2 separate regions of the Homo sapiens genome follow, and region 1 is linked to region 2. Evidence: fine-mapped expression QTL. A gene starts in region 2. The other region holds a variant in brackets. All regions are shown on one strand. Distances are between the middles of the regions. Region 1 holds the start of LOC124903819 (a long non-coding RNA gene). Region 2 holds the start of ANKRD65 (ankyrin repeat domain 65).

Region 1 (15,893 bases), 290 kb before region 2:
CTGAGGAGCGGGCACCATGAAGAGGCCAGGATCCGGCTGGGCGCGGTGGCTCACGCCTGGAATCCCAGCACTCTTGAGAGGCCAAGGCGGGCGGATCACTTGAAGTCAGGAGTTTGAGACAGGCCTGGCCAACATGGTGAAACCACGTCTCCATTAAAAATAAAAAAAAATTAGCCAGGTGTGGTGACACACGCCTGTAATTCCAGCTACTCAGGAGGCTGAGGCATGAGAATCACTTGAACCCAGGAGACAGAGGTCTCAGTGAACCGAGATCGCGCCCCTGGGCCACAGAGCGAGACTCCATCTCCAAAAAAAAAAAACCCAAAAAACGAAAAAAAAAAAAAAACCAACAACAACAAAGGAGGCAGCGTCCATCTGGGGGGACCTGAACAACTCCAAGGGCCTTGGCTGGCGAGAAAATCCTGCCTCAAAAGGGCGCGTGCTCGGTGGTTCCACGGTCTACCATTCCCTCTTAAAAATGTTTTTAAGCAGAGACGGAGACTTGCTGTGTCGACCCGGCTGGTCTGGAACTCCCAGGCTCATGCGACCTGCCCCCCTCCCACCGTGCCTGGTTCTACAGCTCTTAAAGGGCAAAACGGTGAAGCTGGATCACAGATCACAGTGGTGAGCAGGGGTGGGGCGGGCACCCCAGGGGTGCGGGAGGTTGGACCACTCACATGGGCCTGGATGCCTCCTGGTTATGACACTGCCTTCCTGTTCCTGCCGTTCCGCTGGGGGAAGCAGGGGTGGGGGGTGGGGGTCCCTGAGCTCCGCTGGGGGAAGCTGTGGTGGGGGATCCCTGAGCTCCTCGGCCCTGACTGGGCTTAATGGTCTCTGGGCCTTTGACTTTGTCCTTTATTCTAGGACATGGCTATTTGGACAAATAGTTCAAAACCCCTAGAAGATGCCGGGCTTGGTGGCCCAAGCCTGTAATCCCAGCACTTTGGGAGGCCAAGGCGGGCGGATCACCCAAGGTCAGGAGTTCAAGACCAGCCTGACCAACATGGTGAAACCCCGTCTCTACTAAAAATACAAAAATTAGCTGGACATGCTGGCATGCGCCTGTAATCCCAGCTACTTGGGAGGCTGAGGCAGGAGAATCACTTGAACCCGGGAGGCAGAGCTTGCAGTGAGCCGAGATCGCGCCACTTCACTCCAGCCTGGCAACAGAGCGAGACTCCGTCTCAAAAACAAACAAAAAGCCTAAGAGATGACTTCGGAAAGAGGGAAACTGAGGCGGAGCTCCCAGCCGTGCCAAACAGCAGCTCCTCCTGAGGGCTCCTGGGGACCTCAGTGAGGCTCGGTTTTGGGGGCCTCGGTGGGGCTCGGTTTTGGGGGCCTTGGTGGGGTTCGGTTTCTGTTGCGTCACCTCTATGCGGTCCCTGGGGCTGGCGTGCCAAGGCTCGCTGGCTTCCTACTGCACTGGGACTCCAATTATCCGCAGGCCATTCCCAGAAGGGCTGCTCTTCCCAGCAGGCCAGGCCGTGCCTCCCTGATGGGGGGTGCTCTTCAGCTCACGGGGAAGGGGCTCAGTCCCCACATAGCTACACCAGGACGTGCGTGGACGAGGGAGGCTCAGAACTGCAGCTGGGTGCCCTTTACCCCCGGCAGTGCTGAGCCTGGACACCTTGTCCACCCCCCCACACCGACATGCAGGGCCCAGAGGCCTCCTTGCCTAAGGGAGGAGCAGGTGGAGGTGTTAGCTCTTCCAAACAGGCAGGTGCTGGGGGAGGCTCAATTATCAGCACGCAGTTAATCCCCTAATTAAAGGAGGCAAGTGCTGTTCATGGCCCCACCTCCTCCCCAGCCAGGCTGCTGCCCTGCAACGAGGCTGAAGCCTCCTGCTCTGCGGAGGCAGGCCCTGTGTTCTGCGCTGAACAGGGCTGTGGCGACCCCCAGCCCCTCCCGGTGCCCACGCTGCCCCTCCCCCCATTGCCCCCTGGGATTGCCCCCCCTCCCCCACCCCACCCCATCTGGGACTCCTGCCCCTACAGCAGCCGCAGCAGGCCCAGGGGTGAGGCCAGCCTCACGTGGCGCCTGTTCTGTGGGTGGGGTGGGGCCTTCCTTGCTCTGGGCAGAGGGGTGCCAGCCCTGAGGTCCTGGAGCCTCCCAGGCTGAGCCACTGGCCCTGATGCCCACTGGGCTCTCGGCCGATGGACGACCAGGAGACGTGGGGACCAGCGGGCTGGGCTGTGGGTGCTCCCTCCTCAGAGCTTCAGGAACCCTCTGTGTGGGGGGCGTCTCTTCCCTAGAAACTGTCCTGTGCTGGCTAAAGAGCCTCCGGCGGCTGTGGGACAGCCTCAACCTTGCCAGGGCTGAGATGACGATGGTTGCAGCTGCCTTTGGAGCTCGGCTGCCTGGCTGGGCAGGAGGCTGGGGGGCCTCTGTCCCGCCATGGCTTCCCCGGGACCCCACCCTCCGCCCTCCCCTGTGGCCTCAGTGGGCCTGGCACCCAGGCAGAGACTCTCGGGTTGGGTCGTGGGGCCCTGGGAGCACAGGCTGGGGCATCCGCGGACCCTCGTCTCCCCAGTGCCAGGTCCCTGAGCCCGCCTGCAGGTGGCGTCTCTCCCTCACGGGTGCCGGGCCCGGACCTGGGCACTGCACTTGGCGTTGCCGACCCAGCCGCTCCGACTCCTGCCCGGGAAGTCAGGCAGTGTGGCCGGGACCTTCCTCAGGAGACCCTGAGCAGGGGTTCTCAGGACCTGGGGGATCTTCGGAGCTGATGGGAGGCAGCCCCGCCGGGCTGGGTGGGTGGCAGAAGGCCCCCTGGCCTCGGCCTGTGAGGCCGGCTCCCTCGGAAGTGAAGCTACGGCACCTCGAAGCTCAGACCACAGCCATCCTCACATCCCCCGACGGCCCCCGTGCCTCAGGGGCCCCCCTTCCTACCTGCTGGCGACTCAGCGAGGTGGGGGCGTCTTCCCGTGCCCATGGCACCTCTCTCTGTTGCCACATTCTACCTCCTGAATCAAGGGGTGCCCCTCGCCCGTGGGGAGGTGGGGCCTGTGACCAACACCCTTGGGGCCAGCGTGGGGCAGACACCCCAGCTTCGAACCCCAGACGCCCACCTGGGGCCCCATCCACCAGCCCCTCTGCCTCACGCGGGTCTCTATGCACCAAAGTCCTGCGTCCACACAGGAAACCCTGGTTCACCGTAGGGACGCCAGTCACTCAGACGCAGGCCAGAGCTTTGGCCGTGCAAGGATGCAGTTTAATTACATATGACACAGATGGTGAAATACGTGCAAAGCACGGAGCTGTGTCTGTGAAAATGAAGAGGAACACTGAGGAGCAGCACGAGGACAAGCCCCACACTTCTGCGGTTGCTGTTGGCCTCAGCTCTGCCGCCTCAGGGCACAGCCTTCTCCGCAGTTGCTCTCCTGGCCCCGCAGGGTCGTGTGTGCCTGCATGAAGCTAAAACAAAATGCAGAGCTTCTCAAAACTGCTCTACTTCATACCATTAACCGGTCAGCCACCAGTACCAGCAAACCCGCAGATGGGACGCAGAGGCTTCCAGGAAAACAGCAACACCAAACACACCGGACGGGAGTCCTGGCTGCAGGCCGTTCTACATCCAGGGCCCCGGGTAGGCAGCGCTTACTCTTCCCCCATGCAAGCCCCTCCCTTGTGGACAAAGGCAGAAGTGAAGGTGGTGCTCTCCAGATGGGGCTGTAAACGCTGCGTCCTGTGTGCTCTGCCTGGGATGGCTCGCCCTGGACACCAGCCCTGGCCAGTGAGAAGCCCAGGAGCAAGTACGGAAGCTCATGCAGCACACACTTGAGCACACACCTGCACGCACACCTGCGCACACGCCACACACACCTGCGCACACTCCTGCACACACAGTGCACACACCTGCACACACACCTGTGCACACACACCTGTGCACACGCCACACACCCGTGCACAAACCTGAGCACACCTGCACACACACCTGAAAACACACCTGCGCACACCTGAGCACACATCTGCACTCACCTGTGCACACACCTACACACACACCTGAGCACACCCCACCCACACCCCCATGCACACACCTGTGCACACCACACACACCTGCACATACACCTGAGCACACATCTGCACACACCTGAGCACACACCTGCGCACACACCTCAGCACGTATCTGCAAACACTTGAGCACACACCTGAGCACACACCTGCACACACTCCTGCGCACACTCTACATACACTTGAGCACACACCTGGGCACACACCTGCACACACCTGCGCACACACCTGCACACACTCCTGCACACACCTGCGCACATGCCACACACACCTGAGCACACACCTGTGCACACTCCTGCGCGCACACACCTGCACACACGCCACACACCTGTGCACACACCTGCGCACACCACTGCATACACACCTGAGAACACACACCTGTGCACACACCTGCGCACACCACTGCATACACACCTGAGCACACACCTGCACACACACTTGGGCACCCACCTATGCACACACGCCTGGGCACACACCTGCACACACACCTGGACACACACCTGGGCACACACCTATGCACACACATGCCCTGCAGTTGAGCTCTGAGAAACCACCACCCTGTCCACTTCGCAATTGTGCTTCCTGCTACGTCCACAGCTCTGAGTTTCTGAGCTCTGGAAGCAGACGTGGTAAACGTGCATGTTCCAGCCACTGCATGTGGGGTCACTTGTTACACGGCAGCAGCTAACTCATGCAGGAAGCCACGTGAATTCTGGGCGTGGTTGGGGCCTCCTCCTGCACCCAGTCCGCTCACTGCTTGGGGCTGCCACATGCGTGGGGTTGCTGCCTCTGAGACCTCACATTCCCGGGTTCCCTCAGCCTCTGTTCTATTGGAAACTGCAGCCCTGTGGGCACAGGCAGGGCAGGCACTGCAGGTTCTCTTTGGAAGGAGCTTCGCAGGCTGAGGGTGGGGCCCTTCGCCACCCACTGCCCCACCCAGGGAGAGGCTGCCTCGCATCAGCTCCGGGGTCTCCACGTTCTCCAGACCCCAAGAACCCCTTGGCCTTGCAGAGTCTCTGTGAGTCAGGAGCTCAGCGCTGGAAGATGCATCCAGGTCAGGCAGAGACCCCTGGTCCAGCCTCCCCCTCACTTGCTGCTGGCCTGGGCCACGGCACTGCTGCAGGCTCCGCGGACTTTAGGCTCATTTAATGCCTGACCCTGAGTGGCAAGCCCCACCCTGGGCAAATATTTATTTGACAAATAAGGGCTCACCAGGACGAAGGCCATGGAAGGCTTTCCCCAGGGCAGCCGCTGAGCGGCTGTGGAGGCCGAGGGGTCTGTCCGCCTGGGGGAGGCAGGAGGGATGTGGGGAAAGGGGGGCCTCTGACCGTGAGTCCCCAGATCGGTTCAGGGGCGGTGGGAGCCCCGGCTGCTGGAGCCTGGTCTGCGTGGTACAAGACGGCCCCCGTGCCTGCTCTCTCTGTTCTGATGAGAGGATAGGGAAGGCCATGGTGCTGGAGGAGCTCCCGGCTCCCGGGGCTGTGGCCCAGAAAGACGCCCCAGGGTGGCACTCAGACAGTGAGGTGGCCTGTTGACCCCACAGGGAAGTGCTTGGTCTCAGGGCCCAGTACAGCTGCCCCCACAGGAGCCTCTACCACAGAAGCAGGCATGGAGGAGCTCGGAGGACCGTGGCGGGGACAGGGGAGGGTGTGTGTCTGCCTCGAGGCCTCTCCTCCAGGCCTTCCTCTCCTTCAAAGGGACTGCCGCGGCCGAGGTGTGGCCTGCAGGGGTGGACTCTGAGGCCAGCAGGGGCCCGCCCGACACCTCACCTGAGCTACACTCTTCCCCTGACAGAGGTGGCCGATGGGGCTGGCTGAGCTGGGCCTTTTATGCAGGAATGGACGCCCTTGGGGTCAGCCTCAGGGGTTAACCCTTAGCATCCTCTCAGGCCAGGATTCCAGGAAAGATGTTTCCTCCACAGGCCCTCAAGTTACCCCAGGGCAAAGAGTGGATGGCCCAGGCCCTGTGCAGAAAGAGTCCTGGGTCCTCCGTCCTCTTCCAACCTCCTGCTGAGAGTCCCAGGCAAGCACAGATTCCCAGGCTGGGGTATCCCATCCAGACTTTCGCCCTCTGTACCCTTCGTGCTGGGCCTGGGGTGGAGTGTACTTGGAGGGGACCCATCCTCAATCCACCTCGTTCCGGAGAGCTGAGCCCTCAAGAAGCCCAGGAGAGCAGCTCGGGGGAGCACGGACCCTGCTTCCAGCCCTGGGCCATTCGCCCGCTGGAAAAAAATCCCCAAAATTTGCTGATAAATATAAGAAAGTCACAGCAGCCTTCAAACAAGCAGACTCCATAGACAGACTCCAGAACCGCTCCGCAGGCACAGGAGACACCAAACACACTGCTGTCCGTCACAGTCAGGGACCCCCCGGGAAGGACGGGGGACGGAGGAGGGCAGGGGCCGCGGGGTGGGGGCCGAGGGCCTCCCCGTCAGCTGGCAGCAGCGGCCCCTCAGCAGCCTGGAGTGCTGGCCTGCCAGCCGGTCTGCCTGTCCTGCGCCATGGCCTCCCTGTGCGTCTGTGAAGTCAGTGTGAGCTGCTCCCGGGGCGGCACCGGCGTGGTGACCTCCTCCCTGGAATTCTCTCTGTTTTTTTTTTTTTTTTGAGATGGAGTTTTGCTCTTGTCGTCCAGGCTGGAGTGCAGTGGCACAATCTCGGCTCACTACAACCTCTGCTTCTTGGGTTCAAGAAATTCTCCTGCCTCGGCCTCCCGAGTAGCTGGGATTGCAGGCGCCCGCCACCACATCCAGCTAATTTTTGTATTTTTAATAGAGACGGGGTTTCACCATTTTGGCTAGGCTGGTCTCGAACTCCTGACCTCAGGTGATCCGCCCGCCTTGGGGGAGGCGGGGTCTTTCTCTGCCTTGGGGGAGGCGGGGTCTTTCTCTGCCATGGAGGAGGCAGGGTCTTTCTCTGCCATGAGGGAGACGGGGTCTTTCTCTGCCATGGGGGAGGCGGGGTCTTTCTCTGCCTTGGGGGAGACGGGGTCTTTCTGTGACTTGGGGGAGGAGGGGTCTTTCTCTGTCCCCAGTGGGGAGTCTCGCTCACCTCGCTGCGGCTTCAGCGGCCCTCCGCGAGCAGCGGGTGTGAGGTTTGCTGGTTTGGGTGTCGGAAAGCCAGCACACCCGAGGTCCGGCTGCTGCACCCACAGGGTTCGCGCTTTGACTTGTTGATGAGTGGTGGGCACGCTGGGCCCTCGCTGCAGTTTTTTTATTATTATTACTTTTATTTTATGTATTTATTTGTTTTTTGAGACGGAGTCTCGCTCTGTCACCCAGGCTGGAGTGCAGTGGTGCAATCTCTGCTCACTGCAAGCTACGCCTCCTGGGTTCAAGCAATTCTTCTGCCTCAGCCTCCTGAGTAGCTGGGACTACAGGCACGTGCCACCACGCCCAGCTAATTTGTTGTATTTTAGTAGAGACGGGGTTTCACCATGTTGGCCAGGCTGGTCTCCATCTCCTGATCTCGTGATCCACCCACATCGGCCTCCCAAAGTGCTGGGATGACAGGTGTGAGCCACTGTGCCCGGCCCGCCGCAGCTTTATTGATCTGAATAAGCTTTTCCGCGTGGATGCTTTATGGTTCTTTATGGTTGTGTTTCTTTAGTGCTTGGTGGATATTTTCCCAAATGCAGCTCCCTGGAGGCGCTTGCCTTGTGAGGAGCAGGAGCCTGAGAGTGCGGAACCGAGCGTGTCCTTCTCGCCGTCCCCTGGAAAAGATGAGCTGTGTCTGGTCCCAGCACATGATGCTCTGTTTTCTGAAACGGCACCCCTGGGTCTCTGGACAAGAGCCCTCCCCATCTTGCCCCTCCAGCACACAGGATGCCCTCCACAGCCACTCCCAGGGGGCTGGACAGAGTGGGGCTGAGCAGCGGCCACGGGAAGCCACCGGCCACCCAGACCCCCGTCCTCCCCGGGTGCTGCCCTGGGCCTAGGTGGCCAGGTCTGGGGGGCCGATACCACGGGCTACGCCCAGCCCCACCCGGCTCCTGTGTGGTGTCAGGGGCTCTGGCATGCCGGCAGGCCAGTGCTCTCGTGAGAGGTGGGTCCCCAAGCCGGCCCCAGCGAAACTCAGTTAAAGGACGAGTCTGCTTTTGGGCCTTATGTTTCCCAACTCCATGGGCAGAGCCACAGGGCCGCTGCCTCCTCCACCGTGGCTGGAGACAAGGCGGCCCCGGGTCTCTGTGAAGCCCTGGCCACGTTCAGCCGCAGGGCCCTGGGTGTCATCGCCACCGCCCCACTGTGGCCCAGGACTGGGGCTTTGGTGGCCCGTGCTGTGGGAGTGGGGGCAGCCAGCAGCCAGGGTCACAGGCCTGAGCCTCGGACAAGCACAGAAGGACCCCCAGGTCTGGTGCTCGTGCTGACTGCCAAGGGCAGCGACTGCAAGACGGGGGTGCAGGTTTCGGGCGTGGCGCGGGCTGCGTCGGGTTCTGGCATTCAAACATATCATGCGGGACCAGGCCTGGGGTTACAGGTGGGGCGGGCGCGCAGGAGAGGGGAGCCGTCCCGGAGCCGCTCTGCACCCAGAGAGGTGTGAGGTGCAGCCTTTCCCCCCTGCCAGGAAGCGCAAACCCTGCTTTAGACCCCAGGGAGTTGGTGCCCCCCCCAGATGCCCGCGGCTTCTCCCACATGGGGAGCTGTCCATCTGTGAGGTCAGACCTGGGCTGCGGGCTTGGCCACCGCTGGATGCCAGCCAGACCTGCCCCTCTGACTTTTCTTGCTCTTTTCTCTCTGCTTTTCCGAGGCCGGCTTTCCGCGAGGCACTTACTTGAAAATGGAGCCCCGGCATTCCTGCATGCACGGACACTAAATCCAAGGCCAGCTCCTCTCTCAGAGCAGAAGTTAAAAATTATTCAATGCCAAATTCCTGGGCTGTGGAGCAGTAGTGGTTGTACCAGGCAAAGGTTCCCGCCGCCTTCCGCCGGCCGGGCAGAGATAAGACCATGAGGGCGCCCGGGGGAGTCCGCGCCTGGCCCACACTGCCCTCCGCCGTCCTGGGACCAGGCCCACACCGCCCTCCGCCCTCCCAGGACCAGGTAGGACTGAGGCTCTGTGGGTCTGACCCACAGCGTCTGGGAGGTTTTGTCTCAAGGGCTGGTGGCTTCTGATGAGCCGAAAGCCCCCGCACCCACGGCCCCACAAAGCTTTTCTTCCGGGACCAGCCCCTCCCCAGTCGCCTGGCCAAGGCCCAGCCCTTAGGGGCCTCCATGGTGTGCTGGGGAGGACCTGGGGGTCCCGCTGGTGAGCCCAGGGCACAGTTGTGGCAGGCGGAGCCCGCGGGGAGGGCAAGGCCTCAGAAGAGGAGGGATTCAGCCGGAGGGCCTTCCCCAGGGCTGGCGGCTTCTGCTATTGGCTGGGGGGTGGTGAGGGTCAGCTGGGGCCTGCAGGGCTGTGCTGGCCAGGTGGGCCGGGCCTGGGGTCCCACAGCCTGA[G/C]CGGAGATGCCTGGAGGGGGCCACAGGGTGACCATGTGCCCCCCGGGAGAAGCTGGGGTCTTGGGTCCCCGTGATGATTATGGGTGTCTGGGGGTTCCTGTAGGAAAAGATGGCTGCGAAGGCCCCAGAGTTCCTCGGGGCCTGTGAATGACCCAGCCAGGGGGCCCTCAGAGGGGGAGAGAGACTGAGAAGCCATGATTTACATTTCCTGGCAGAGAGCTCTTGCAGGGAAACCAAATTTATTCCAGTTGACAAGGTGCGTGGGCATTGGGAACAACGTGGGTGGGGGCACAGCCTCCTCTGTCCCGGCCGAAATCCAGTCCTGCAGAGATTTGGAGCACAGAGCATCAGGGCCGCCTGTGAGGCACAGAGCGAATGGGGCACCAGCCTGCCCTCGGCCTCAGACACGGAGAGGCTCCCACGGCACTGAGCCACGCATGGCCACGCGACAGAGGGACAGAATGCCGTGGCCGTGTAGGGGAGCTGCACTCTGCGTGGCCCTGGGATGGGAAAATCCAGGGAAACAGACACTGTTATGGATGTGAGCATCGGCTGCCAGAACGAGAGGAAGCAGAAGAGGGGAAAAGGCCGATTATCGTAGAAGAGTTAGGAAAATCAATCAAAGATACCCCCTTGAGAACAGTTAAGTTCACAGCTGTGAGTTCTGGAAACCTTTATGTTTTAAAAATGATTCCGAGGACTCAGAGGGTAAAGCTCGCACCAACTTAATTTGTTATTGCCTTTTCTATCAAAGTTATGCTTGTGGCCGGACACAGTGGTTCGCATTTGGGAGGTCAAGGCGGGCGGATCACTTGAGGTCAGGAGTTCGAGACAAGCGTGGTCAGCATGATGAAACCCTGTCTCTACTAAAAATACAAAAAAATTAGCTGGATGTGGTGGCGGGCACCTATAATTCCAGCTACTCTGGAGGCTGAGGCAGGACAATCGCTTGCACCTGGAAGGCGGAGGTTGCAGTGAGCTCAGATGGCACCATTGCCCTCCAGCCTGGGCAACAGAGTGAGACTCTGTCTCAAAAAAAAAAAAAAAAAAAAAAAAAAAAAACCAGTTATGCCTGTAGGTTGCTTGAGAGTCAAACACTTCTGCAAGGCTTGGACACATATGATCTTCAGGCCGCGCCGAGGCCACCAGCTCCGTGTGCTGGGAGGCTCCTGTGTTTACTTCCAACGTCACTGGCAAACGGCAGCTTCTCAGCACTCCAGCTTCAGGGTCAGCCCTGAATCTGCCCTGTGGAAGGGGCTGTTTGCCGCCCTCCCACCTCTCGTCCCGCCGTCACGCGCCGCGCCTGGTCTCTGCTGTCACTCTGCTGGGCGCCGGGGACTAGCTTGGTGCCAGGTCCACCGTGGCCGCCTGTTCTCACCCGAACTCTGAGCTGTTTCCCTGAAGTTAATAATCGCCTTTGCTTTTCTTCTTGCTTAGCTTTCTCTGAACTCATTACTAATTCAGCCTCAGACTCTCCCCCATGACTTAAATTCCGGCACGCCAGGTATTTCTGAGGGGCCTCCGGGAGCCTCCTGCCCTGCCCGGGGCTGGTCGGCTCCCTCGGGCCTGGGGCAGGGCTGGCGTCTTGCAGGCTTCGTGGTCCGTGTCACAAAGGTCCCATTGCTTCTCCCCTGGGTGGGATTTTCCCGGGCCCCACACCTCCCCTTTCTTGTCTTCTCAGTGTTTTGGTGGAACAAGCCCCTCGCAGCTCCCCGTGAGGTGCAGGGGGTGGGCCCCCACCACGCCCACAGCTGCAGCTGCCTGTGAAGGGCACAGGGCGGGCCCCCACCAAGGCCTTCGCTTCCCTGCGAGTTGAGAAAACCTCGCCGCAGGGTCCCCGGCTCCCGAGGCTGCTGTGGGTCCGGCAATGGCATCCCAACCCCGGGGCCTTGGTATGGAACCTGTTTCTGCGGGTTTTTTCCTGAAAGTTTTTGGGGCCTTCTTTTTGTCTCCATCTCTGCTGTCCTGTGAAGGTGGATCTTTGTGTGGTTCCGTTTTCATCCCTTTCACGGGGTCCTCAGTGGCTCTTTCTGTCTGGAAATGCCTGAGCTTCGGCTCCAGGAAATGTTCTTGAATTACAATTTTTAAATGATTTTGTTCTTTATCTTTTCTTTTTGTTGTTGCTCTCTCTTTCTCTGGTGAATATTGCTGCAATTTGGAGCAGGTCCTCTAATCACCTTTTCTATCCCATTTTCTTTGCCTTTTCACGTCACGTTCGGGGAACGTCCTGGCTCCGTCCCTTCCAGCGCTTTTCGTTTCTGTCCTCGGAGTCATTCTTTTTAAGACGGAGTCTCGCTCTGTCGCCCAGGCTGGAGTGCAGTGATGTGATCTCGGCTCACTGCAAGCTCCGCCTCCTGGTTCACGCCATTCTCCTGCCTCAGCCTCCCGAGTAGCTGGGACTACAGGTGCCCACCACCATGCCTGGCTAATTTTTTGTATTTTTAGTAGAGACGGGGTTTCACCGTGTCGGCCAGGATGGTCTCGATCTCCTGACCTCATGATCCGCCCGCCTCGGCCTCCCATAGTGCTGGGATGACAGGCGTGAGCCGCCACGCCCGGCCCCTCGGAGTCGTTCTTTCTGTTGCATCCTCATGGTTTTCTGTGGCCACGTGCTTTCGCTCATCTCTTCGAGGACGTTCCTGATAGTTTGTGCCTCTTCTTTTCAAGGCTTCTTCTCCTTGCACAAGACGGTCTGGAGAAAAACCCGCATTTCCTTCCGTCACACTGACCACATTTAACTTAAAATGGGAAGAGAGCAAAACATTCCACAGGCAAAGTCAGGGGACTATTTTAATGACAGAGACACATGGTTGAAATCAATGCTGCACTCTGAGCCCTTAGAAACCGTCGCAAAGGACTCCACGGAAGGGTGGGGGCAGCCCCAGCGAGGTCGTCAGGGAGCAGAGCCCGAGTCATGGGACACAAGGCCGGACCCCTCACCGCCAGGGAAGCGGAGTCACAGGCACGTGGCCCTCTGCGCCCAGGGTCAGGGCACGGGAGGCAGAGCCTGAGACGGGGGTGCCCATGCAGGGTGTGCTGGGGGTGGGGTTGTGGGGCCTCTCAGGGGCAAGGGGCAGGACCGGACAGCAGAGAGATCCCACTCCTGCCTGAGACCCGCCGCCATCGCCGCCGCGAGCCCTGCGTTGGGCATTGGGGCCAGGCACCTGCCAGGAGGGCCTCTTCCGAGGTGGGGTGTCACCTGGGATGTGTCCGCTGGCAAATGGGAGAAACACCAGGGCGGCTGCCGGGGAGGTCGATGTCAGGGAGCCCGTAGCCCTGAGCCCATGTGTGGAGGAAGCCCTTTGTCTGAGGAGCCTGCGGCCGCCTTGGACCCTGGATGCTTGCAGGGAATCTACACAGGGTTGTCAGGTACGACAAGGGTGCCCAGGGCTGAGGAGGGTGCCCATGCGGCCTCCTACAATGCGTATGGGAAGCCGGTGAACGCCCTCCCTCAGGGCTGGCCGGGTGCGTCTGGGGTTGTCCTAGCTCCAGCTGCTGGAACAAAATACCGAGCCTGGGGACTTAAGCAACAGAAATGTATTTTCTCACAGCCTCGGAGGGGGAGGGGAAGGTCCGGTGTCCCAGGGTTGCCGGGCTGGTTCTGCGGAGGCCTCTCCCGCTGCTGCCTTCTCTCAGGCGGCCTCTGCGCAGGTCCGTCCCGTGTCCCTCTGCCCTAACCTCCTCCTGCAACTAGGACACCAGTGGGACCCGGCCAGGGCTCATCCTCACGGCTGCTTCCCACATACTCACCTGTCTCGTAGCCCCTTCTCCACACACGCTCGCGTTGTTGGTACTGAGAGTTTGGATTCTAACCATGAACTCTGGGGGCACAACCTGCCAGAGGGGTCACTGTGTAGCCCGGGGGACCTTGCAATGTCTCATCCTTAAAACCCCAGGAAGAGCAGAGCTCTGCTGCGTGTGCTCGCGGGTTCCGCCTGAGAGCAGGGTGGTTCCGGGCTGTGTGTTCCGCCTGAAAGCTGAGTTTTAGGAGCAAGCAGGAAACACAGAGGAGAAGGACCAGGAACCCTGGGGAGCCCGGGGGAGCTACAGGTGGAGAAAACTGCCCTGAGAGTGGTGGGGAGGGCAGGTCACACCCACCCCAGGGAAGGTCGCTTGGGTTTACGTGGAGACGTTGTTTTGGGGTGGCGGGGCCTGGGTGTCCAGCATCCCTGGTACATCCCTCCTGGTGGGGTCCTGCCAAGGATGACGCTCCGGCTGGGTGGGCACTGCAGTCTCAATGCTCGGGGTCCGGTGTGGGGGGCTCCCGGTGGCTGCACCCCTCGCCCTGCGCCCTGCCCGCCGCCTGCCTGCCCGGCCTCCTCAGCAGATGCTGGGCTCTGACCCCAGCGTCAGGCAGAGGCTGGGCCGGCGGCCAGGACGACTCCGCCTGGGGTTTAATGTTCCACTTCCTCCCCGCTGACTGACCCTACGCAGGCACTGGCCCTACTCTGAGGCCTCCCAGCCTCCCTTCCACAGGTCTGGCTGGGGAGGTGGTTGACGTGGGGAGGGAAAGCTTCCCAGGACGTAGATTTTGTTTTCTTTTCCTGGAAAAGGGCGGCTGCTCATGCTTCCTTGCTGAGGTCCCCTCCTGTGTCCAAGAAAACTTAGTGGTTTTCTCTCTCTCCTAAGAAATACAGGCCTCAGGTAAGGCCGGGCACAGCGGCTCACGCCTGTTATCCCAGCACTTTGGGAGGCCGAGGCGGGCAGATCACGAGGTCAGGAGATCGAGACCATCCTGGCTAACACGGTGAAACCCCGTCTCTACTAAAAATACAAAACATTAGCTGGGCGTGGTGGCGGGCGCCTGTAGTCCCAGCTACTCGGGAGGCTGAGGCAGGAGAATGGCGTGAACTCGGGAGGCGGAGCTTGCAGTGAGCCGAGATGGGGCCACTGCACTCCAGCCTGGGCGACAGAGCGAGACTCCGTCTCAAAAAAAAAAAAAAAAAAGAAAGAAATACAGGCCTCAGGTAACCAGTGCTGTCAAAACATCCCCGCATGGCGAAATCCCTCACGCCCCCCTCCCCACATGCCCGCGTCTGCTTTCTGCCCTGTCCCAAACCATTCACCTCCTCACCCCGCCACCCCAACTCCACTGTCAAACCGTTCACCCCCTCACCTCGCCACCCCGACTCCACTCTCAAAAACCAGAACAGGTCACCAGTGCTTCCCTCCCTAAACAGTTCTGTGCTGTCCTGGGAGCACCAGTAACATCCAGTTCCCCGAGGGACCAGGGGGCTGCCTCAGGGGGGAGGGGTCTCCTGCAGGCCTGGCATAGTGTGGCTGTCCCTACACCCAGACCCTGCACACGGCCCCGCGACACGGGGAGGCTGAGGCCTCGCAGGGCCCTGGGTGTCTCCACCAGCTCCTCGGGGTCCGCTGTCCTGCTGAGGTGCCCGCAGGACCCTCAGTGGGATGGGCACCAGCCCTTTTCAGCGTTCCGCCGAACAGGGGCCCAGAGTGCCTGAGAGGCGCCTGTGTTTGCACATTTGGAGGCCGGTGGGGGTCCGTGCAGGCGCAGAGCCCCACAGTAGCAGGTGGCCCCGTGGGGAGGCTCCCCGATGGGTACATCCCGCAGCAGCATCTGACATCTGAGTCTGCAGCCCCTCTCAGGAGGGGGCACCGTGAGGGGTGTGGCTTCCTCGCCATCTGAGGCTGCAGCCCCTCTCAGGAGGGGGACACCGTGAGGGGGTGGCTTACTCGCCAGGCTCCCTGGGGGCTGGGCAGCGATGGCTGGCTTCCCAGGGGCCTTCCTGAGTCACGGACCCATGGGGTCCTGGCTGACTTTGCCTGCGGCGTCAAAGGGCTTGAATCTCCGTGTAGCCACCGAGGCCTCCACTCCTGGAGACCCCACCCGTGATCCCACCTCCCCCAGGCAGATATCTTGGCTGCAGCCATTGTCCATCCCCCGGGGTCACCGTCCCCTCCCCGCCCCGATGCTCTGACCACCCGGGGGCTCCTCCCGTATCCTTTGGGCCTTCGGGAGACCCCACTCCACCACGGGGGCCTGGATACAGGGTCTTGCCACCTCCCTCCCCAGGGAGGGGCCTGGGAGAGTCTGGAATGGGATGGTCGCAGGCAGTGGGGGCCCTCAGGGTAGGGGCCTGATCTGTGCATTTGGGCACAAATTCCCTGGGCGTAAATGTCACCGGAAAGGGATCCCAAAGAGGGCTCTTGGACCTCGAGCAAGAAACAGTTTGGGGGAGTCCACTGATAAACTGAAAGCAAGTTTAATAGGAAAGTAAAGGAATAAGAGAAGGGCTGCCCCATAGGCTGAGCAGCGGCCTGGGCTACTCCACTGAGAATACTTATTGTTGTTTCTTGATATGTACTAAACATGGTGTGGATTATTCCGGACTTTTCTGGGAAAGGGGCAGGCAATTCCCAGAAGTGAGGGTTCCTCCCTCTTTTAGACCATCTAGGGTAACGTCCTGGCGTTGCCGTGGCAACTAAACTGT
Region 2 (12,696 bases):
CCTAGCGCCGGGCTGCCTGTCCTTGGTTTTACCTCCTTGTTGTTTTTTCTTAAAATAGGTACTGAGTATAAAACAATATGAGACGGTCTCTCTCTTCCCTCATTCCCCCCTTTGAGACTCTCACTTTTTATTAGTGGGAGTTCTCACTCATTTTTGCTACTTATGTCTTTTTGTGCAATAGATTGATAGTGATTTATATAGTATGCTTGTGCTGAAGCATTTTGGTGAACTAAGGTAGTGATGAAGTTTTTTATCATTTGGAGAAATACAGGTATCAGACAAGGGAGCAGTAAGCAGGTTCCTATTACTATTGTTACTCTTGTTATAAGAGTTTTAAATCCTCCTATTGCTGGGAACTAATTTCTAAACATGGCTCCTGGATTGAGTCCATGCCACACGTGCACGGGTACGTGTGCCAGTTTTGTTATATCTTTAACTATATTCTCAGCTACTTGCCCCTGATCATCTATGTGTAGACAACGATTAGTAAGGCTAAATTTTTCACAAACTCCTCCTTCAGCTGCTAGCAAGTAGTCAAGAGCTGGTCTATTTTGAGAGCTAGCATTTCTCATCAAAGTCTCTTGCCGGGCAAGAACAGTCAAGGCTTGACCAGGTTTATAGTAATAATTTCTAAAACAGCTTGTAACCGTATGATTCGGTTGAGCACGTAGATGGGGGTTCGATATCCCCATGAGCCATCTTCTGCCCAAGTGGCGGGTCCGTAGTATTGTATGATTTTTTCAGGGGGCCATTCATCATCTTTCCAATCACTTATGGCTATGCTTCGTTTTTCGCGGGAAGCATAGACTGGGAAGCCCAGACGTTCACCTGTTTTTATGGGCAGTAAGAAGAAAGATGGCTTCATGGTGCCAATTACACAGCTACCTGTCCATTGATCAGGCAGCTTAGCATAAGCTCTGGGTCCACATATCCAGTATAACCCGGTGGGGGCCGTCCAGTCCCGGTGGAGTTCTGGGTAGGCCCAAACAGTCTGCAACTTTGGAAATTTACTGAATGGATTTCTTTCTGTGTAATTGGAACTCCACCATGTAACTGTTTTTGTGGTACCGTTATACAGCTTTTGCCCAAGACAACCAAGCCGCCCTACAGGATGAGTGAATCCTTTTCCTTCTCAAGCTATGCAATACTGTCCAATAATTGAGACTTTTAGAACTCAAAAATTGTCAGGGTGGTTCTTTTGGGCTGGGAATTCATCAGGAACTGGGTCTGTAGGAACTAATTCTCGGGCTTCCCATGGCCGCTGATCTCCTGTTACGGTTCCTCCGCAAACACAGCTAGAGGTGACTTGTAGAGACTGGGCTCCATGTTCGGCTAATTGCAAAAACAAAGTTTTAGTTTTTGCTGGAATCTCAGGTACTGACACATTTAGTTCATCATAGAAAGTCTGCAATATGGTTGTGGAGAGCGTTATTGAACCTCTCCTTCTATTAGGATGCTTACGCTAGGATCTAAGCCTTTTCTGTCAATGCCTAATGTTAACACTTTTTTTTATTCCACTTTGGGTCTGAAGGGTTTGTGATTATCAATTCTAAAAGGTTGTAGCTCCCACTCGTGCAGGAGGGGCTGACTTTTCCTTTTTGGAGCCAAACAGGATCTTTTTTATCTTCTTTCCAAGTAGCCCAAATGACACAAGACCAGTATTGACACATCTCACATAAATGTGATTCTTGACAGATATACTTATTTTTTTTTTACTGTGTAACTTTTTTTCCAATTTAGAGAACTGCATCCTATTCCATGCTGCTAACTATTAATAGCGGCACCAGCCTCAAATTTTAAGGTTACATTTTTGGGGACCCCTCTTTCTTCTGTTCTAGCTATTAACTTACTTGTGTCACCTAGAAAAGGACCAGTCCTGTGATCATGGGAGGCTTAAAATGGGTCATAACACGCATCAGTTTGGTTATTTCCTGGGCTGCATACCTTGGATAGAATAGCATCATACAAACAAGTTTCTTTTAGAATCCTGGTACACTTACAATAACCATAAAATAATAGGACTGTAGCAATCTTTTGTCTTACCTCAGTGACTTGATGTATATACTGGAAACAGTTCTCAGTCTGAGGAAGGTCAGTTGAAGTCCTTACTGTACAAGTCCAAATTTTAAGGAAAATGAGTCCCGCGATGAGTTTCCTCATGCTTCGGCTGTACGTGGACCAGTCAGCTTCCGGGTGTGACTGGAGCAGGGCTTGTCGTCTTCTTCAGAGTCACTTTGCAGGGGTTGGCGAAGCTGCTCCCGTCCACGTACAGCTCGAGTCTACTGATGTTTAAAGATGGTCTCGGTGGTTGGGCCCCCTAGAATAAACTGAGTCCAACACTTCTACACAGTTAAGTTTCACTGAGCTCTCTGATACTGGGAGCAAGGTGGCAGGGTTTAGGGTTTTGCAAACTTCAGTGGTTATGTGGGGATTTTCACAGAGCAAGCTTTGGTATCTAGTTAGTCTAGAATTCATTAGCTAATGATGTCCTTTGGTATTTATTAAAGTCACCACAGCATGGGGGGACTTTAGGTTTTGCCTAAGAGTTAGCTTATCTGCTTCTTGTGCTAACAGGGCCGTTGCTGCCAGGGCCCTTGGACAGGGGGGCAGCCTTTGGAAACCCCGTCTAGTTGTTTTGAGAGATAGGCCACTGGCCTTGGCCAGGGCTCTACGGTCTGGGTTAAAACTCCAACTGCTATTTTTTCTCTTTCTGACACATAGAGTGTAAAGAGTTTTGTCAGGTCAGGTAGCCTCGGGGCTGGGGCTGACATGAGTTTTTCTTTTTGACTCATGAAAAGCTCGTTGCTGTTGGTTGGAATGGATGTAGTTTATCTAATCTACATTTTTATTGACTGTCATCTACCAAAATATTGACTTAAATCCTGTAACTATTTGATTTCAAGCTTTAAATTGATCTGGTGTCCCTTGTGGGGCTCCAATTGCGTCTAAATAGATGTGAGAGTTGAAAGACCCATAAGGGGCTTCTCTCGCTTTACGATGTCTTTTTTTTTTTTTCTCCTCTGGTTGATGAAATGCCAGGGTGAAAGGGATAGCCAAACGGACTAAAGCACAAGTGCCACTCTAGTTATTCGGCAGAGTGCCCAGTACAGGTCCACCACAATACCACCACACATCCGCTCACATCCGCTCAGGGATGAACAAGGGCTGACTGATTGATAAGCTCTCGAAAATTCTTAAGCTCACTGCATCCCTTCCAGTCTCCAAGGACTGCTAAGTCTCCTCCCTGCCGTGAGAGACACGAAGGGAACTTAGTTTTGGGAGACGGAAGCTGGATGGCCCTCGGGGGCTGACCCGCAGGGACTGCAGAATGTAGCGGGGAGAGCTTGGCATGACTTGCTGCTCCAGGCTGTAGAATCCTGGAAAAGAGCTACCGTGCAGCCCACGCCTGGTCGACTGAAGGACCACCTTAGTGGAAGGGGGACAATCAGAGCCTTTGGCCTGCCATGTGCACGAGCATCACAATTGCTTTTGTTTAACATCAGATGGAATATCTGATCCATTTCAACCAGGCATTTTGCATCTTGGTATGCTGTCTTAATTGCCAAAGTTTGTTTTAAGTCTTAAACTTCCATGATCCTCTAGTAAAATGAATGTTTCCTTTAGCACCTATTTTTATTAGTTTTTAGACCAAAGAAAGCTAAACACCATTTTATATTTAATAATGCTTCTTGTATGATTTTTATACCAGATAAGCTAAATTTTACCTTTATATTAGTGTGTTATTAATGTTAAACTTAATTTTAATAAAACCTTGTAGACATATTTATCCAATTTTTCATGTTTGACCATAAGGTAAGATTTTATAGACTCTTTTTAACCTTTTATAACTTTTGTTAAAGAGCAGGTTGATGCTTTAAGAAAAACCTGTTGCATTTTTACTTTAATGTCCAGTTCACAGAAAAACTGGACGATACCTTTTTAACTTTAGTTAACATGTTTACACACAGAATTTTCTTTACAATTTACATTTTAAAACTTGCTTAAACTCTTAAAAACAATAATTTTTTTAACCTTTTAATGTAGGTAAAAATCCATATTTTTATGCCCCTTTATAATTTTTTTTACCAAAGGTATATTTTACTTTTCTTGTACACCTTGCACATAAACTTTTTTTTTTAATAGTACTCAGGGGCCAGGCGCGGTGGCTCACGCCTGTAATCCCAGCACTTTGGGGGGCCGAGGCGGGCGGATCACGCGGTCAGGAGATCGAGACCATCTTGGCTAACACGGTGAAACCCCGTCTCTACTAAAAATACAAAAAATTAGCCAGGCGTGGTGGCGGGCGCCTGTAGTCCCAGCTACTCGGGAGGCTGAGGCAGGAGAATGGCGTGAACCCGGGAGGCGGAGCTTGCAGTGAGCCGAGATCACGCCACTGCACTCCAGCCTGGGCAACAGAGTGAGACTCCGTCTCAAAAAAAAAAAAAAAAAAAATAGTACTCAGGAGGCCTTATTACTTTTAAATTATACAACATTTTTTGCATAAATTTTTTATAACATTTTGTTTTACAACTTTCGCCGACAATTCTTCAACATATCTCAACTTTCTGCCTTATTACAAACTTTTAAACAACCAGTTAATATATTTCAGGACAAGAATTTACCGTATAACATGCTTTTCACATAAATTCAGCCTCCCCTTTTTTTTTCTTTTTTAAAGCGAACTTTTTTTATGTCTTTGGACTAGACTGTCTGAGGCCACAAGATTAAAAGTTACCATTAACATGTTACACTGTTAACTTTTAGCAAACTTCGCTTTTGTTGAAAACCTTGGAAGTTTGGGATTTCAATTATCCTTTGCTATTAATAAGACCTTGTTTAGTCTAAATTAACTTAGAATTGGTATAGATGGCCTCTTTTTCTCTCTGCTGGTCTTTCCTTGCCTCTGCCAGCCGCTTATGCTGCTGTTCTCTTAACTACCGTAGGGGGGAGGGGGTCTAAAACCTGCTCTAACTGTCCATGTACGGAAACTGGCCTGGGTGCCTTGGCTTACACGTTACCTTGTGTCATACCTTTGAAACAAGGGACCTGTCCAGGCTTCCTTCTGATGGCCAACCCACCTCTAATGCTGACAAGTCTATTTCACACAAAGTTGTAAGTTTTCCTGGTGTCAGAGTAACACCGTAATCTCCCTTAAATTCTTTCTTGAAAAATTTTTTTTAACATAGTTCCTAGTGGGGTGGGCTTATCTGTGCCTGACCCACGCTTCTTCAAGACAAAACACCACGCTCACACCACAAAACAAAAAACAGGTAAAAAGGGCACACACACACTTTTGCAGTTTACACCAAACCAAAATCAAAACCAAAATCAGAGTATCCAGAAATCCAAGCCAGGTCAAAACCAAAACCAAAGTATCACATGATCTCAGTCAAGTCAAAACCAGAACAAAGGTGCTAATGCAGGCACGCCGTGGGCGATCAGGCCACGCGTCTACTCAGGTGGAGTGGGGCAAGTTCCAAAGACTAGTCTTACCAGGTTTCAGATGTCCGGACTCCAAGTGCCAGTTCCTTCCCGGTGTTCAGCCACTGTGTTAATCCACCATGGGGGCCCGTTATGGGCTGCTCTGGCGAGGTGTTCCACCGAGGCAATTTCCTACCCGGGAGCGCTCTTTAGCTCACGTCACTCAGGCTGGCCGGAGTCCCCCGCAGGGATGCTCCACGGGGCAGGCCTAAGCCGCCTAAGGGGCTGCCTCGGTCGTCTGTCAGTTACCTCGTTTCCCAGTCAGGGAACCAAGAAATGTAGCAGGACGAGCCGCAGACAAAACCTCTCAGACACCCAGTTGTAGAAGGAAGGGCTTTATTCAGCTGGGAGCATCGGCAAGCTACTGCCTTAAAATCCGAGCTCCCCAAGTGCACAATTTCTGTCCCTTTTAAGGGCTCACAACACCGAAGATTTCACATGAAAGGGTCGTCATTGATTTGAGCAAGCAGGCGGTACGTGACAGGGGCTGCATGCACCGGCGGTCAGAGAGAAACAGAACACGGCAGGGAGTTTCACAAATGTTCTTCTATACAATGTCTGGAATCTATGAATAACATCGGTTTCTAAGTTATGAATTGATTTTCAACTACTGGGTTTAGGCCAGGCAGGCGCAGGCCTGGTTTCGGGCCTAGCGCCAGGCTGCCTGCCTGTCTTTGGTTTTACTTCCTTGTTGTTTTTTCTTAAAACAGGTACTGAGTATAAAACACTATGAGAGGGTCTCTCTTCCCTCATTGCCACAACTCATTCTTTGTTGAAGTATGGAGAAGGCTGGAGCTGCAGGGTCAGTGGGCCCTCCTGGGAGCTGGGGGCCATCCCTGGTCCAGCCAAGGCCTGTGACTGCAGCTCAAGCCACATCCCCTACTTTCTCCCATCCCCTCCTCCGGAAGCCTCTTCCCTGATGTCCCCTCCAGGCAGGCAGCCTCAGCCAGAGAGCCTGGAAATCACTGGGGCGGTGGAGCCTGGAGCCTGCTGTCTGGCTCAGCCCGTGGACTCTATGCCCTCACACTCCTTCTCCCCCCCTCCAAGTTCAGGCAGCGCCTGGGGCAGGTCCCCCTCAGGCATCTGGGCCACCTCGGCCCACTGCGTCCGCAGAGTGGGGCTGGCCCCTCGGCTCAGCAGAAGCCCCACGGTAGGCCCATGCCCTCGCTCTGCAGCCAGGTGTAGGGGGGTCTTTCGGAGCCAGCCGGTAGCATCCACCTGGGCACCCCTGTCCAGCAGGCAGCCGGCAACCTCCACGTGGCCTTCCCGAGAGGCGTGATGCAGGGGTGTGAGGCCCAGGGTGTCCCGCGCATCCACCTCGGCCCCCTGGGTGACCAGCAACTGGACGGCAAGCAGGTGTCCTCGGGCGGCAGCCCTGTGCAGCGCAGAGCGGCCATGCCTGTCCCTGATGCCTGGGTCTGCCCCGTGGCCCAGCAGCACCTCAATGTCCTAGAAGAGGAGAGAAAAGCAGGGGCCGGCCTCAGCCCGGTAGGCGAGGGGCAGAGCCACCAGGCGTTTGCCCAGCCCAGGCCTCTTCTGTCCCCGCAGCGGCCTGTCTCTCCTGACACCACTTCCTCATGTTGTGAGGCCGAACCCAAGGCTGGCCTGCTTGGAAACGTCCACTTTTCCCCCTAAGAGTCCTTAGAGCAAATCCAAGGATCTGCAGCCAACACCCTGCCCGCTGCCCAGGAACGGGGGTCTCAGGCACAGGCCCGGCGCTGGCGGAGAGTCTGTTGCTGCCACCAGCATGAAGCCGAGCCCCGGGCCTCGGATCCCGCCCTGGTCTCCACGGGACGGGGCTACACCGGAGGGGCACAGCCGGGGGCGCGCTCAGGGCCTTCGTGCCTGGACACCGTCCCCCAGCCTGGCTCCAGCTGCCCCGGTGGCACGTCTCTGGGGATCCTGGCCCTGCGCCCCCTCCCATCACTGCCGGGCGGAGGGCGGGACGTACCTGGGAGCGGCCTAGGGCGGCCGCCAGACCCAGCGCTGTGGCCCCCGCGCCATCCCGGGCGTCCACCCGCGCCCCGCGCGCCAGGAGGAAGCGCAGCGCCGCCCCGCGCCCCGCAGCGGCAGCCACGAGCAGGGCGCCGTCCAGGCCCGCGCCGCCGGCCGCCAGCAGCTCCAGCACCGCCAGCCGCCCGCCCGCGGCCGCCCAGTGCGCCGCCGTCCAGCCGCGCGCGTCCTCCGCCTCCGCTGCCGCGGGTCCCGGGCCCGGAGCCTCCAGCAGGCGCGCGGCCAGCAGCGTGTGGCCCAGGGCAGCGGCCCAGTGCAGCGGCGTGAGGCCCGTCCCGGAGCGAGCCGCCGCCGAGGCCCCGCGCTGCAGCAGCAGCTCGGCCACCCGCGAGTGTCCGTGCCAGGCGGCCTCGTGCAGCGCGGTGCGCCCCGCCCGGTCCACCGCGCCCACCGGGGCCCCTCGCTGCAGCAGGAGACGCACCAGGGGCGCGTGGCCCCGCAGCACGGCCAGGTGGAGCGGGGTCCGGCCTGCGTGGTCCCTGAGGAGGGGGCAAGGGCGTCGGCGCGGGGGTGGACCACTGACCAGAACCCCGCCCTGCCCCACCCCGTCCTGCCGCCCACCCAGCGCTGGGACCCCCGTCCTACCCCATCCAGAGAAGGGACTCCTCCACCCACCCAGTGCTGGGACCCCCATCCTGCCCCACCCAGAGAAGGGACCCCTTCACCCCCCAGCGCAGGTGCACCTCTCCTCCACGCTGGCACCTTGCCGCAGCAGCTGCGTCACCAGGCCTGCAGGGCCCCTCCACACGGCCTGGAGCAGGTGCCCCCAGCCCTGGACAACACTAGGCCCCTCTGTCCTGGTTCCCAGGGCCTCTTCGGAGTCCAGCTCCATCCACCGCAGTTCCTGTTCCTCCTCCTCCTCCTCTCTGGGCTCAGGCCTCTGGGAGTCCATCTGGGGGGGAGCAGGGATCCTACATCCACTGTGGAGGCCTCTGGCCTGCCCCCAGCCGTGTCCCAGGCCAACTGGAGCCCCCCATTCCAGTTACCACTTAGCCTTCAGAGGGGCTTGGCTCTGTTACCCAAGGGAGCTGGCTCAGGAGCTTTCTGCTCTGGCTGAGGGTCCTCTGTAGACGGGTTCTGGCCGAGGCTCAGCCTGGTGACCCTCTTCACAAAATCCCTTCTGCAGGCTTTGGGGTGGAGTGTCTGCTGCTGAAAAGCTGAATGGTGGCAGCTTCAGCCTTGCAGGGGGTGGGAGAACACAGCTGGTCCCCTGGGCCAGGCTGAGGCCACCTGACGCTGTTTACTCAGCCACTTAGGAAGGCCCTGCCTTCGGGCACAGCCCCCTGTCCAACATACTCCCTCCCCTGCTGGCTGCCAGGGCCCCAGTTCGGCTGCCCTCCTGGGGAACAAAGGCCAGGCGGTTGGGGAGGACAAGCAGGAACATGCTTGTGGACGAAAGTTGCTCAGACGCCACCTCCCCCAGGAAGCGCAGCCTTGGATGTACCCCGATGTGCCCCTGGAAGGCCTCACAGGGCTCTCCATGGGGCCCACCCTCGGGCAGCCCCCTCACCCACTCCTGTCCCAGCTGGCTAAGCCCACCCAGGGGTGGGTGCCGGCCCCTCCTCCCGATTCCAGGCTGGGGAGGAGGGCAGGGTGAGGTTCTGGCCTTCCTTTCTGTAAATGCTGGACAGGACAAAAGATTCACCAAGGACTCCAGGCAGGTGGCCTGGAAAAGAGGGTGGCGCTGGCATGGGAGGGACGAAAACCCTTTGGGGACTGGCTGGGGCAAGTCTGGAGCCAGGGAAGGGACAGATGCCTGGGCAGGTGGGGGCGGGGGTCGGGGGGCAGGCGGGAGAGTGGGGAGAATCCCTGCTAGGGTGCGTCTGCATCTGGAAAAGCAGCTCTGCCCCAGCAAGGCCTGGGGCAGCGGGATCCTGGGGGCCTGGGGCAGGATGGGTGGGGCTGGTGCTGAGGGCATCTTCCTGTCTCCCAGTACCTGGGGCCAGGCAGGAGAAGGGAGCATGGCTCTTTGGGGTGGCTGCAGCAGCCTGGCCCCTCCAGCGGCTGCACGGGAAAGGTAATGAGGGCTACCCATTCCCACCCCAGCCCCCTTCAGCCTCCCAGGTCCCCAAGGACAGGGTCTCCTGAGGGCCCTGGTCTGGCCTCCCCCACTCCCTAGAGGACTGCCTCTCCAAGGGCCCAAGGGACCAGGGGCCCCATCCCACCACCCCCCAAGCCACACAGACCCTGCCCTACAAACCTCATCAGGCTACTCATCCGTCACCTTCCCAGATCCTGACCACAGGTGGATCTGAGGCAACGTGCGACTCTAACCCTGTTTTAGTTTGTTCTTAGCATTTATCACTACAGGAAAGTATCTATGTGTTTATTTAAATGTCTGCCTTCCTCTTCTAGAAGGAAAGCTCCGTAAGGCTGACCGGGAAAGAAGCGAGGAGCTCTGGGGGCTGGGTGGAAAGTCCCGTACTCATCAGGGCCAGGGAGGCCACAGAAACTACCTCACGCCAGCTTCCCAGGGGTACAGCGGCTAGAATGGACCTCGAGGAGGCCCCTCCCAAGACTCCCGTCTCCCGGGTTCCACCGCAGTGGGGGCAGCCACAGCTGCCTCTGCAATGCTTGTAGGACCCACACACAGTGGGGCACGGAGGGGCAGAGGCCGCAGCCCCTTTGCCATGAATCCAAAGAACCTGGAGTGATTCTGCAGAGACGTTCGAACCAGAGCGACTCCATCTTGAACAGGGGCTGGGTAAAATGAGGCCGAGACCGGCTGGGCCGCATTCCCTGGAGGTCAGGCATTCTTAGTCACAGGATGAGATCAGCACAAGATACAGATCACAAAGACCCCGCTGATAAAACAGGATGCCGTGAAGAAGCCGGCCCCAAACCACCAAAACCAAGACAGCCAGTCCTCACTGCTCATTATGTGCTGATTATAATACATTAGCATGAGACACGCCCACCAGCACCAGGACCATTTACAGTTGCCATGGCAATGCCGGGAAGTTACCCTAGATGGTCTAAAAGGGGGAAGAACCCTCACTTCCGGGAATTGCCTGCCCCTTTCCCGGAAAAGTCCGGAATAATCCACACCATGTTTAGTACATATCAAGAAACAACAATAAGTGTTCTCGTCGGAGTAGCCCAGGCCGCTGCTCAGCCTATGGGGCAGCCCTTCTCTTATTCCTTTACTTTCCTATTAAACTTGCTTTCAGTTTACTCCGTGGACTCCCCCGAATTCTTCCTTGTGTGGGGTCCAAGAACCCTCTCTCGGGGTCTGGATCGGGACCTCCTTTTCCGATGACAGTCCCTGGGACTTAGTAGCAGTTCAGCAGTGTTTGTTGAATGAATAAGCGAGAGACCTGGTTGGGGGGCACTTAGAAAGCAGAGGTTTTGCAACTTTTTAAAACTTTTTATTTGTATTTTTGAGACGGAGTCTCACTCTGTCACTCAGGCTGGAGTGCAGTGGTGTGATCTCAGCTCACTTGGAACCACCATCTGCCAGTTTCAAGTGATTCTCCTGCCTCAGCCTCCCAAGTAGCTGGGATTATAGGCACCCACCGCCATGACCGGCTAATTTTTGTATTTTTAGTAAAGACAGGGTTTCACCATGTTGGCCAGGCTGGTCTCCTGACCTCAAGTGATCCGCCTTCCACAGGTTCCCAAAATGCTGGGATTACAGGCGCCCACCACCATGCCTGGCTAACTTTTTTTTTTTTTTTTTTTTTTTTGAGATGGATTCTCGCTCTGTTGCCCAGGCTGGAGTGCAATGGTTTGATCTCGGCTCACTGCAACCTCCTCCTCCCGGGTTCAAACAATTCTCCTGTCTCAGCTTCCCGAGTAGCAGGTACTACAGGCACGTGTCAACAGGCCCAGCTAAGTTTTGTATTTTTTTTTTTTTTAAGACAGGAGGTTTCACCATACTGGTCAGGCTGGTCTCGAACTCCTGACATCAGGTGATACACCCGCCTCAGCCTCCCAAAGTGCGGGATTACAGGCATGAGACACCGTGCCCGGCCTGATTTTTGTATTTGTAGCAGAGACGGGGTTTCACCAAATTGGCCAGGCTGGTCTCAAGCTCCTGACCTCAAGTGATCCACCCGCCTCAGCCTCCCAAAATGCTGGGATTACAGGTGTGAGCCACCGTGCCCAGCGCTGTAGGGACACTGCAGGGAGGCCTCTGCTGCCCTGCTAGATGTCACACGCCACATGGTACCACTCTCCTTCTTGTTCACAAGTCTGAAGGAAGTAGGTGAGCTGGAGAGGCCTGGAAGGTGTTGGAAGGGATGGAGCCCACTAGAAGGCCTCACAGGGAACGGCTCAGCTCACAGACACCTACTCCTGTCAATTAATTATGAACACGGAGCTGGAGGCTGGGCATAGTGGCTCACGTCTGTAATCCCAGCACTTTGGGAGGCCGAGGCGGGCAGATCACCTGAGGTTAGGAGTTTGAGACCATCCTGGCTAACACGGTGAAACCCCACCTCTACTAAAAATACAAAAATTAGCCGGGCGTGGTAGTGTGCGCCTGTAATCCCAGCTACTCGGGAGGCTGAGGCAGGAGGATTGCCTGAACCTGGAAAATGGAGGTTGCAGTGAGCCGAGATCGTGCCATTGCACTCCAGCCTGGGAAACAAGAGCAAAAAATTCCTCCTCGACAAAAAAAAAAGAAAGAAAAGAAAATGGAGCTGGAACTGCTGACGTGCAATAAAGCCCTGGGAGACGGACAGACGTCAGGGACTGTGCTGGGCGCGGGGGCTGATGCCTGTCATCCCAGCACTGTGGGAGGCCCAGGCAGGCAGATCACTTGACACCAGGAGTTCCAGACCAGTGTGGGCAACGTGACAAGATCCCATCTCTACAAAAAATACCAAAACTAGCCGGGCGCGGTGGTTAGGTGCCTGTAGTCCCAGCTATTTAGGAGGCTGAAGTGGGAGGACTGATCGAGTCCAGGAGGTCAAGGCTGCCGTAGCCGTGATTGAACCACTGTACTGCGGCCTGCGTGACAGAGTGAGACCCTGTCTCAAAAAAAAGTCAGAGTCGGGAGTAACGTTCAGAGAAAATGCTTGGGGTTTTGGATGGGAAAAGTTTTGCCCCTGACTAGAAATGATGGGCTGGGCGCCGTGGCTCACGCCTGCAATCCCAGCACTTTGGGAGGCCAAGGTGGGCGGATCACAAGGTCAAGAGATCGAGACCATCCTGGCTAACACAGTGAAACCCCGTCTCTACTTAAAAAAAAATACAAAA

Evidence for each region.
Region 1: its variant is fine-mapped to the expression of ANKRD65 in prefrontal cortex (GTEx, PIP 0.95).

What each region holds. Positions count from the first base shown.
Region 1 is chr1:1,119,717-1,135,609 of GRCh38, forward strand. LOC124903819 (a long non-coding RNA gene) reads right to left here and starts at 9,268. Exons shown (of 2, transcript XR_007065349.1): 1 at 8,775-9,268; 2 at 3,187-7,716. It overlaps LOC124903820 (a long non-coding RNA gene), which reads left to right and starts at 8,968. Exons shown (of 3, transcript XR_007065351.1): 1 at 8,968-9,042. RefSeq lists a silencer at 2,293-2,632, an enhancer at 3,241-4,059 and a cis regulatory region at 15,134-15,893. The variant G/C (reference allele first, on the strand shown) is at 9,439.
Region 2 is chr1:1,412,620-1,425,315 of GRCh38, forward strand. It overlaps ANKRD65 (ankyrin repeat domain 65), which reads right to left and starts at 8,657. Exons shown (of 4, transcript NM_001145210.3): 1 at 8,514-8,657; 2 at 8,178-8,386; 3 at 7,433-7,973; 4 at 5,801-6,930. The coding sequence starts at 8,386. The coding sequence ends at 6,481. It overlaps ANKRD65-AS1 (ANKRD65 antisense RNA 1), which reads left to right and starts at 7,547. Exons shown (of 2, transcript NR_187360.1): 1 at 7,547-7,945; 2 at 9,850-10,668. RefSeq lists enhancers at 5,630-5,709, 5,877-6,326.